Linked DNA regions of Homo sapiens. The protein of the gene in region 1 purifies or fractionates together with the protein of each later gene. This does not show direct contact. Each region holds a gene or a part of one and is shown in the gene's direction. Other genes may lie near its edges. The genes, in order: PRDM1, FBN2 and AGK.

The links.
Region 2: the proteins of PRDM1 (region 1) and FBN2 purify together in Homo sapiens (affinity purification with mass spectrometry; one large-scale study listed by BioGRID and IntAct). This does not show direct contact.
Region 3: the proteins of PRDM1 (region 1) and AGK purify together in Homo sapiens (affinity purification with mass spectrometry; one large-scale study listed by BioGRID and IntAct). This does not show direct contact.

The regions. Positions count from the first base shown.
Region 1 is NC_000006.12:106,103,315-106,106,969, forward strand, and holds part of PRDM1 (PR domain zinc finger protein 1), read left to right. Parts: intron 1-1,510; coding exon 1,511-2,619; intron 2,620-3,056; coding exon 3,057-3,185; intron 3,186-3,596; coding exon 3,597-3,655. UniProt on the Homo sapiens protein: Transcription factor that mediates a transcriptional program in various innate and adaptive immune tissue-resident lymphocyte T cell types such as tissue-resident memory T (Trm), natural killer (trNK) and natural killer T (NKT) cells and negatively regulates gene expression of proteins that promote the egress of tissue-resident T-cell populations from non-lymphoid organs.
Region 2 is NC_000005.10:128,307,594-128,311,248, reverse strand, and holds part of FBN2 (fibrillin-2 precursor), read left to right. Parts: intron 1-1,140; coding exon 1,141-1,266; intron 1,267-1,849; coding exon 1,850-2,002; intron 2,003-3,655.
Region 3 is NC_000007.14:141,613,910-141,617,564, forward strand, and holds part of AGK (acylglycerol kinase, mitochondrial isoform 1 precursor), read left to right. Parts: intron 1-236; coding exon 237-269; intron 270-1,561; coding exon 1,562-1,656; intron 1,657-3,655. UniProt on the Homo sapiens protein: Lipid kinase that can phosphorylate both monoacylglycerol and diacylglycerol to form lysophosphatidic acid (LPA) and phosphatidic acid (PA), respectively. Does not phosphorylate sphingosine. Phosphorylates ceramide.

The DNA.
Region 1 (3,655 bases):
TTCACAGAGTTCATTTCTAGACCTATCAGATAGCAAGTGTGGAGTTCTTTCTCAACTAAATTCAAGCAGAGACATTTTTTAGACGATGAAGGATATTTGCACAAAGGCTTCAGCATGATCCCCCAAACCTGCTGCCTCTGAAGGCATCTCCACACATTGACAGCCAATGCCTTCAGTGCGTTCCTAGGGCAGGTGTCCTGGCTTGAGTGACTGTCCTCCAATAATCAGAGCTCAAACTAAACATCGTATGTTTTACTTTTGGTTTCCAGGCAAGGCTGAGCAGGGAATTTTCAGTTTTCCCTGCCCAGATGGGTGTTTTTTCCTGAAGGCATCATTTATTGTGTAGCGAGGAGACAGGGCTGGCTGTGGCAGGGATAGTCTAGAACTGTCCTCATTGCTGCTGTTCCTAAATAGTATCTTTACCAAGTAATAACGTGCCGTCTTTGGGAATAAGTGCTTTCCTCTTAGCCTGTTCTGTTTTCTTGGGTGCGCTAAGTAATTGAACTGGCTCAGGAAGTACCTATTGTGGTTTGGCAGAGGTGACTGTCACGCCTTGTGACTCCAGGGGCCAGCACTGCTGGGATCCTGGCTAGACCAGACAGAGCCTTGGTGAAGTGCTTAGGCTGTCTGCACATCGCGAGGAAGGTGGTATTCACTTCGCTAAGCTCCTTGGCATAGGCAGTTTGAACAGGGCTTTATCAAATTCGTATTCAACAAGAGTAGAAGCGAAAATTGATGACTGTGTATTACTTGAAATGAGTCTTAATCTTTCACATTTAGTTCTCAGGGTATGCTGATTTCCTTTAGGTAAACCATGAACATCAGAAAGACTTTTATTAACCTATGACAGGGTCCCCACCCCAGTATTTTTCCACTCCATTAAAATGGAAGTTTTTTTTTTTTTTTTCTTTTTTGAGACAGAGTTTTGCTCTTGTTGCCCAGTCTGGAGTGCAATGGCACAATCTCGGCTCACCACAACCTCCACCTCCCAGATTCAAGCGATTCTTCTGCCTCAGCCTCCCAAGTAGCTGGGATTACAGGTGTGCGCCACCACGCCCAGCTAATTTTGTATTTTTAGTAGAGATGGGGTTTCTCCATGTTGGTCAGGCTGGTCTCGAACTTCCGACCTCAGGTGATCCGCCCACCTCGGCCTCCCAAAGTGCTGGGATTACAGGCAAGAGCCACTGCATCCAGCTTAGGCTATCTTACTCCAGCCTAAACAGCAATTTTCTATCATAAGGTCTGTACTAATGAAAACAGAATCACCCAAGGCTGCTGTTTGTTCTGTCTGTGCTGCCATTGTCCGCATTTTGCTGAGGAGGAAACGGAACTGCACTTTTGAGTGAGTGGCCCAGAGCCTTCTAGAATGAGAGTGCGTTGGAAGCCAGATATGTGGCGATTGTGTCGCCAGCTGTTACTCAGGTTTTCTCAAGAAGGAGGAGCAACTTTGGCAGTTTTGCTTCAGTTCTCTCTAGCCCTCTGTGTAATCGCCCCTTTTTCTTTATTTCAGCACAAACACAGAGCAGTCTAAAGCAACCGAGCACTGAGAAAAATGAACTCTGCCCAAAGAATGTCCCAAAGAGAGAGTACAGCGTGAAAGAAATCCTAAAATTGGACTCCAACCCCTCCAAAGGAAAGGACCTCTACCGTTCTAACATTTCACCCCTCACATCAGAAAAGGACCTCGATGACTTTAGAAGACGTGGGAGCCCCGAAATGCCCTTCTACCCTCGGGTCGTTTACCCCATCCGGGCCCCTCTGCCAGAAGACTTTTTGAAAGCTTCCCTGGCCTACGGGATCGAGAGACCCACGTACATCACTCGCTCCCCCATTCCATCCTCCACCACTCCAAGCCCCTCTGCAAGAAGCAGCCCCGACCAAAGCCTCAAGAGCTCCAGCCCTCACAGCAGCCCTGGGAATACGGTGTCCCCTGTGGGCCCCGGCTCTCAAGAGCACCGGGACTCCTACGCTTACTTGAACGCGTCCTACGGCACGGAAGGTTTGGGCTCCTACCCTGGCTACGCACCCCTGCCCCACCTCCCGCCAGCTTTCATCCCCTCGTACAACGCTCACTACCCCAAGTTCCTCTTGCCCCCCTACGGCATGAATTGTAATGGCCTGAGCGCTGTGAGCAGCATGAATGGCATCAACAACTTTGGCCTCTTCCCGAGGCTGTGCCCTGTCTACAGCAATCTCCTCGGTGGGGGCAGCCTGCCCCACCCCATGCTCAACCCCACTTCTCTCCCGAGCTCGCTGCCCTCAGATGGAGCCCGGAGGTTGCTCCAGCCGGAGCATCCCAGGGAGGTGCTTGTCCCGGCGCCCCACAGTGCCTTCTCCTTTACCGGGGCCGCCGCCAGCATGAAGGACAAGGCCTGTAGCCCCACAAGCGGGTCTCCCACGGCGGGAACAGCCGCCACGGCAGAACATGTGGTGCAGCCCAAAGCTACCTCAGCAGCGATGGCAGCCCCCAGCAGCGACGAAGCCATGAATCTCATTAAAAACAAAAGAAACATGACCGGCTACAAGACCCTTCCCTACCCGCTGAAGAAGCAGAACGGCAAGATCAAGTACGAATGCAACGTTTGCGCCAAGACTTTCGGCCAGCTCTCCAATCTGAAGGTAGGCCTTGAGAGAGAGCAGTCCAAGGGGCTGTGAGTGCATGCTTGTGTTTGTATTTAGCTTGCTTTCCATGGGGTATCGATTGCATTTGCAGTAGTATGAGCCCCCGGTTGGGGATAGTGGGTATGGATTCCGCCTGGCTTTTGCCACTTCTAGCTCTTTGACTTTGGACAAGTGACTTCCCTTCTCCTGATTTTCTTCTGAATAATAAAAAAATTAGGGGTTTGGACTAGAAGATTAGGTGAAACTCCCTGCTAGCCTGTGATTTTTGTGCTTTTAAGAAAAACACCATTCTGAAAACATGAAGATTTCTTCTTTTTAAGACTGTCTTGATGCTTTTCTTAAGATATTTGCATCAACACTTGAGTCTTGGAGCAGAAATGTTAGGTCTCAGAGCCAGCTTGAGAGCAGAGCTAACACATGTGGCTTCTTCCCAGGTCCACCTGAGAGTGCACAGTGGAGAACGGCCTTTCAAATGTCAGACTTGCAACAAGGGCTTTACTCAGCTCGCCCACCTGCAGAAACACTACCTGGTACACACGGGAGAAAAGCCACATGAATGCCAGGTGCGCAGTATTTTCTGGGTAGACCTTCTGACCTTTGTAGAAAATGTCTGTGAGTCACCCTCCCATGTCCTATATAGCCCGTAGTTAAAGCCAACACCAGATTCTGCGTTGTCCCATCCTGGACTGATGGCACTATGGTCCTTCCCAGTACTTTGTATCTGCTGATGACTTGAGATGGCACAGCCAGCTTCCAGTGGGTGGGAAAATGGTAGGGGAAATAAACAGCCCCTCGTGTGCTGTGTGCCCACATCCCCCCGTTTGCTTAATACCACACTGGAGGTGCCACAAGGAGGCTTCTCACCTCCTAGGTTGCTGGGCGTTGGCCGGTAAGCCTGCCCCTCCCGTTGGCAACTCTTAATCTTCTGGCCTTCCTGTCTCCCTTCCCTGCTGTCTCTCTCCCCTACACTGTAGGTCTGCCACAAGAGATTTAGCAGCACCAGCAATCTCAAGACCCACCTGCGACTCCATTC
Region 2 (3,655 bases), on another chromosome or scaffold:
CTGCTGAGGCCTGAGGGAAAGGCCCATCCTCACATTCTACAAAAGGCTCAATTAAGATTGGTTCATAGCTTTTTTTTTTTTCATATCAATGTAGCTAAGTTGTATGATGATAGACAAATTAATTTATGGCTCGTTGCCATAATTCACTGTATTTTTCCAGGAGGGTTGATTAAATATAAATTGGGAAAATGGGGTAGTGTGAAAACCTAAAATATTAAGTAAGTTATTAGTGAAAATATTGATAAGAATTACATTTTACATAGGAAAAATTGGTAAGCTAAAATGTGACCATTAACTTAATATTGATCAGTAATTTTTAAATGTTGGACTATATGGTATGAAGAAGTTCAAAGGTTATGCAGCTGCCATTCTTGCTTCCATCCCCCCACTTGATCACATGGTATTTCAATTCTTTTAGGGGCCTGTCTCACCACTAAACTGGGGGCTTCTGGAGACAAGGTCCACATCTTACTCATCATTACAGCCATAAGTTCTAGCTTACAGTAGAATCTCAATATTTTAATTGTGAAATGAGTGAATGCTTCTAACTGAACATTAAACATGTAGCGTAATTATTTCCATTATAACTTTTCTTTTGGAACATGTTTGATAAATGTATCTGGAAGAAATAGGATGTAATGAGGAGAACAACCAGCAGCTGCACTGCTTTAAGAATCTCTGAATAGTTACTAATTTGAAAGAAGCTACAAAGACAAAGGCTTTCCCAACCTGCATTCACTTTAAAGTTGGCATTAAAACTTAGCCTAAGTGACATAGGACAAAAGCAGGCTTTAAAGAAATTCCAATTGAAGAATGCGAATTGCAATAAAAAAAAAAAAAAAAAAATATATATATATATATATATATATATATATATATATATGTGCCAAGGAAATTATTTTTTGCCACTTTAGAATAATTTCTTTTGATGCTTTATATTTTTTAATATGGGGATTTTTTTCTTTTGAAGAAAGATGTATCTGTGTTATATAAATGCATATTTGGGATATTTTCTTTATTTCTAAGTTTTGCATAAATGGGGATTTAGAGAATCACCTATGCTTTGTTCAGTCATCTAAGTAATATAAATTCATTGAAAAAATAGATTTATTAATTAATAGATATTCTTGCCTACTCTAGATATTGATGAGTGTTTTGCACATCCTGGTGTGTGTGGGCCTGGGACCTGCTATAACACCCTGGGAAATTACACCTGCATTTGCCCACCTGAGTACATGCAGGTCAATGGAGGCCACAACTGCATGGGTAGGTAAAGAACTCTGAGATTAATTAGAGCACAGTTGTTGACTTCACACATAAAGCACTTACGTCTCAGAATTATTGTTTGGAAGTTTGGAAGTTCAGTCTTCGTGAATTGAGATATTTCAGAGTCTTGCAAGCTGCTGGCTTAGTATCAAGTTTTTGACCTTTGGGTATACATTTAAATTTTTAAAAGCATGAGTCTAATGTAGAAAATTTCCTCAAATGTTATATATTCTTAAATTTTTCATCTCCATTCATATAGTGTGAACATTAATTTACAAATAAAAGAACATTTAAATTTTAATGCTTTATTTTTTTAATTAAATAAATGATTTTGAGAGAAAAACAAATATGTATTAACATTGTCTCCCAAGAAAATTATAAGTGAAAACCTTTAAGGATAAAGGAGAGATGTTAATCTAAAAATGATTTATGTTTAAGGAGTTATTTTAAGATAGCTTCAAATGACTAAAAAGGGTTTCCGAGTTGTGTTCATCAGGAAAGCTTGATGTCTACAGCTGTGTGGGCTTCATTATAAACTACTCGTGGATACAAATGGCTAGTTTCTTTGTTTTTCTTTATATAGACATGAGAAAAAGCTTTTGCTACCGAAGCTATAATGGAACCACTTGTGAGAATGAGTTGCCTTTCAATGTGACAAAAAGGATGTGCTGCTGCACATATAATGTGGGCAAAGCCTGGAACAAACCTTGTGAACCATGCCCAACTCCAGGAACAGGTAAGCACACGGCTCGTGCATCTGCTGACTGCCACATCAGTGATACACGCATATATCTAACAGTATAGTCAAAGTCACTGCATGCTAAAACTAGAGATGCTCAGTTCCAAAAATTCCCAAGAGCATCATATGGTTCTGTTTCCCAAGTGATCCTCTTTGGGATTCAAACACTAACTTCTGAGACATTATGTTGGATAGGCTTGTGAATCCTGAAAATAAGATCCATTGCTGAAGAGTTAGAGTTGATAGCATTAGTCCATTTAAACTCATTATCTTAAACTGTGCTTGTCAATTATTGATTTATTCATCAAACAAATATTTCTTGAGTAACTACTGTATGTCACTGTGCTAGACATGGAAAGTATAATATTTGGAGAAAAACTAAATTCAATAAGGATTTTTTTTTAGTTCAGCCGTGGAAAATATGCAAAAAGTGTTTTTTATGAGCGAATTTTACATAAAAGCAACCCATTGTCATAATGTGCCTTTTACATCTTCTTCCTCAGACATCAGTGAAATTTTTAGGCAAAAAATAGAGCTTGTCTTCACTTGGTCATGTTTTTTTCACAAGACAGTTTCTTTTGAAAGAAAAAATGAAAGATAATAGAGATAAGAGCAAAAATGCTTGTCTTAAAATTGCTGTCCATCAGGCTCTCTTTTATGACCTGGAGAATGGCAACTTTTAATAACTATAGATACTAAGAGTTGAACCAGTAGGCCAAATAAGAAACAGTGATTATGCATTTGTTACCAAATATTACTTAGGGTATATGTATTTAAATGTTCCATTTAATGTATTGATGAAATTAAGGAGAGAAATGATGAAAAGCAACACATAGGCCTTTTTCAGTGGCTCCAATTCACTGGTCAAATGGATTTTCTTAGCCTTATCTTGCCATTATTATGTTCCATAAAATTAAATAGAAACATTCCTACAATTCTCAACTTTAAAACTCCATAGTTACAAATTTAAGATCATTGATTTGGGGAATTAAAATGGCACTTTCTTTGTGAGAAGAAGCGAAAGGCTTGGAGTTGAGAGACGTGTCTGTATTTAAATCAAAACTCTTAAGATACTTATTGTGGAACCTCCTGCAGAGTATGTATCCTTTCTGAAACTAATTTCTCATGTATAAAATAGGAATAATAAATAATTACAGTGACTAATTCATATGGGTGCAATGACAATTAGGGAGATTATACATATAAATTATAATTTGAAGATTTCCAGACAATTAGAAACCATTAAGTTGAGCATCTGTGGTCTTTCTATCTGTTCTCAATACTCGGTATATATTGATGGATGAAATATACAATATCCCTGACCTGATAGCACTTGGAATATAGTATGCAGTTTAAGTTTTATATAATACTGTTTTCAGGAGTTTTACTCACTTGTATAGCAGTGAGCGTCAGAAGCATTTTTCATCTTGCAAATTAGAATTCTTTTAAATTTCCATTGATTTGGTTAATTATGTGTAAGAATACTTCTTATAGTCCCTATTTTATTTCATAATGCATTGTTTTTGATGACTCAAATTTCACATTCCAATAGACACAGTAAAAAAAAAAAAGACAAAATTCGCATCTCATTCATTATACATTGTTTACCTATTTCCCCTCTACAACATTATTTTTGCATGTCTATACCTT
Region 3 (3,655 bases), on another chromosome or scaffold:
ATAATTATTTTATCTTAGCCTTTATTGTATTATTGATCATAGGTCAAAAATAAAATCTAATTTAGCTCTGATTCTATTGGAGAATACTATATGTTTTAAGATCCAGTGCATCTTTTAACAGAGCTTCTAAGAAGAAAACAGGAGTAAGTTTATGGTCTATGAAAATTGAATCCAATTCTTTTATTGTAAAGGAAATACATATTATTTATAACAATGTTTTATTATTACATTTGTAGGTTGTTACTGGTGTTCTTCGACGAACAGATGAGGTGAGCATTAAAGAGTAATTGCATTTTAACTTTTATTTTTCTGTTCTTTTTTATTGCTTTTCTTTCTTTTACTTTTTTTTTCCATTGTATATTTTAAAACGGGTACAAATTGTGCTTTCTTGAATTTTAGAAAAGAAAATACTGCTACCCATGTCATAGAACACGTATATTAACACATGGGGACTTTTCTGGTTTGGTAATTGATGGTATCCAATAACTTTGACAATGGTTATTTAAAATTTTGTTATGGAATCTTTTTTTCAAAGAACTTTTTCATAAAAGAAATTGTGGCATATTCATATAGTGGGAATCATCTAACAGTTAAAATGAATGAACTAAATGTATAAATATCTACATGGCTAAATCTCAAAAGTTTTGAATAAAAAAAAAAGCAGGTTGCCCAGGTATGTTATGCATTTCTACAGTGTTTTAAAATTCAGAAAACAATACTATGTATGGTTAATGGATGCTTAAATATGTAGCAAAAGAATAATAATGTGGATGAAAAGGAATCACACCAACCTCAGGATAATGGTCTCCTCTGGGAAGGGAGAGAGGAGAATAGTTTTAGAAGGGACTTTCATTGTATCTCTATCGTTTTATTTCTTGAAACATATGAAGCAAAAAGGTAAATGTTAACATTTGTTAAATATAGGTTGTGGGCACATGGGTGTTTTTGTAACATTATTTTATGCACTTTTCTACAATAGCTAGAAGATCCTTCTCAGTCCCTTTGGTAATAGTACATTGTGCTCAGAATTGTTTTGAACCTTACAGTATCTATTGTATGTGTGGCATTTAATTAACTGCTATGCCAGTACCATCTATTATTTGAACTTGTTTATTCTCTTTGCCTTATTTGTACTTAAGATAGTTTATAAAGCACCTTCACCTGTCATTGGTCACTGTATAAATGGTAGACATTTTTAGTTGAATTTTATCTGCAACTTTATCAAATAGTGTGACAATGTTATACAGTCTCTGTTGCACTAGTGCATTGATATATTATCTTCAAAACCCTCATTATCTTAACCAAATTTCTTTCAAACAGTTGTCATTAATGAGTACTAAAATATTTCTTCCAAATTCTGAGTCATTTTGTTTTCATTGACTGCCTTGTTTTAGAAATTACCCACCTAGCTTTATTTGATTACTGGTCTAAGGATGTGGAAAGGAGATGGGGAGGCAGATACAGGGTCAGTTATTTGTCATAGTGGACACACCTGTGCTTCTCCATTAAGCCTGATTTTCTGATCATAACAATAAAACTTTCCTCTTCTTTCCCCCCCCAGGCTACCTTCAGTAAGATTCCCATTGGATTTATCCCACTGGGAGAGACCAGTAGTTTGAGTCATACCCTCTTTGCCGAAAGTGGAAACAAAGTCCAGTAGGTTGTCAATGTGGGGAATTAGCATTTGTGGGTGAGCGAGACTGGGAATGAAAAATTTATGTGTATGCTATAACTTTCTTGAGTTTTGATAGCCTGAAACTTCAAATAATTAAGAGGAGGACCTAGATCAGAGTTCAGCCTTTCAGTTCATTGGGAAGTCTCCCAACTTGGTTGTGGGACTCTTATAATAAGTCTCCAGGTCAGGTAGGGAGGTGAATACTTGATGTCCTTTTGTCAGTTATGAAGATAATATCCCTGACCTAAACCGTTTTTGTGCTTGTACATTGTAAGATTCTTTAGTGAAGACATATTTGTGCTGCTCATTTGTTTGCTTTAAGTATATGCAATGACAAATAACAAGTCCCTTGTGAAGACTGAACTAGTAGCCTGGCTTCATTATCTTGATATTAAAAATAGCTAAAACAAGTAAATATAGCCACATCCTTTTGGGAATACTTAAAGTGGTAGACAGTGTAGACAAAGTAGACTGGGAAAGCAGTGTAGCTCTGACATCTAAATTAAATTGCTGTGAGTCTCACAGTGTTTTTGGGAGTCAAGCAAATTGTTGTTATTATTGTTCTTTTTTGCTTGAAGGCATTATGTAAACAAAGCTCTGCTCTTTCAAGAAGATAGGAATCTTGAATTTGAGCTTTGACAGTGATTAATAACATCATTTTGAGCAAATAGTTGTCAAGAAGACCCAAATAAATGGAGAGATAGCTGAGAGATCAGTTGCCTGATGGTTAACGTAAGCTTTGTGACACATTGGAGGAAGTCAATAAATAAATATTTGTTGCATGATTTAATGAAAATTTTCTCATGATTTTTCTGGTTATAATCTTCTAGAATAAATAATAATAATACCCAAGTGATTTTCTGTTTTGGTTAAGGATTTTTTTTTCTGCTTTGGAATTCTTTGATTAGGCTGGCTTTTGTGAATTTATTTTTGCTATTGTAATGTTAGGAGTCAACTGTATCTCTTTTAACAATTCTATATTTTAATAAGCATCTTAGTCCAGTTTTCAAAACACTAGGCATACACACATATATATATGTCAGATCTTCATTCAAACTTCTTTTATATTTCAAACCTTAATATAATGGGGATTATTCAGCTATTCATTAGCCATCCTGAGGGCCTAACTACAGGAGAGGCCATTTCAGTTGGCCATCCTTTTTTTTTCTTTTTCTTTCTTTTTTTTTTTTTTGAGACAGAGTCTCGCTCTGTAGCCCAGGCTGGAGTGCAGTGGCGCGAACTCGGCTCACTGCAAGCTCCGTCTCCCAGGTTCACGCCATTCTCTTGCCTCAGCCTCCGAGTAGCTGGGACTACAGGCGCCCGCCACCACGCCCGGCTAATTTTTTGTATTTTTAGTACAGATGGGGTTTCACTGTGTTAGCCAGGATGGTCTCGATCTCCTGACCTCGTGATCCGCCCGCCTCGGCCTCCCAAAGTCAGTTGGCCATACTTTTTATTCCCGGTTTAGAATTTCTGAGGGGCAGTAGATAATGACAGTTAATTGCTCACATTTTTGCTTTTCCAAGATGAATCCTGTCTGATTCAGGTGTTGGTTACATTAGAGAGCTTGTCTTCTCCTTGTGTCAGTGTAGATTTTTTGAATTGCTTTAGCCAGTATTCCAAATAGCATATGTCATTGATCCAAGGGTAGACCATTTTCCTTGGAGACCCCTTGCCTGTCCAAAAGCTAATTTACACAGAGTGTGGCAACCCCCAGGGTCTGAGAGAGTCTTCAGTTTGGGGGAACTGATTTTCTCTTGTAGTTAAACTACTACTGTTGCTGCTGCTATTTATAGTTTAAAAATTTATAAAACTTAATTTATAAGCATGCCCCAGGGCTGTTAGGTAATCCAGGAAGTCTGTCCTGAGTTCAGAGTTCTGTAGGCCTCATAAAATGGCAGAAGCCTAAGGCTATTTAAAAAGAACAAGGCTTTGCTTTTTGCACTGCTGTCAAGATTTGTTGTACCATAGTTACCACAG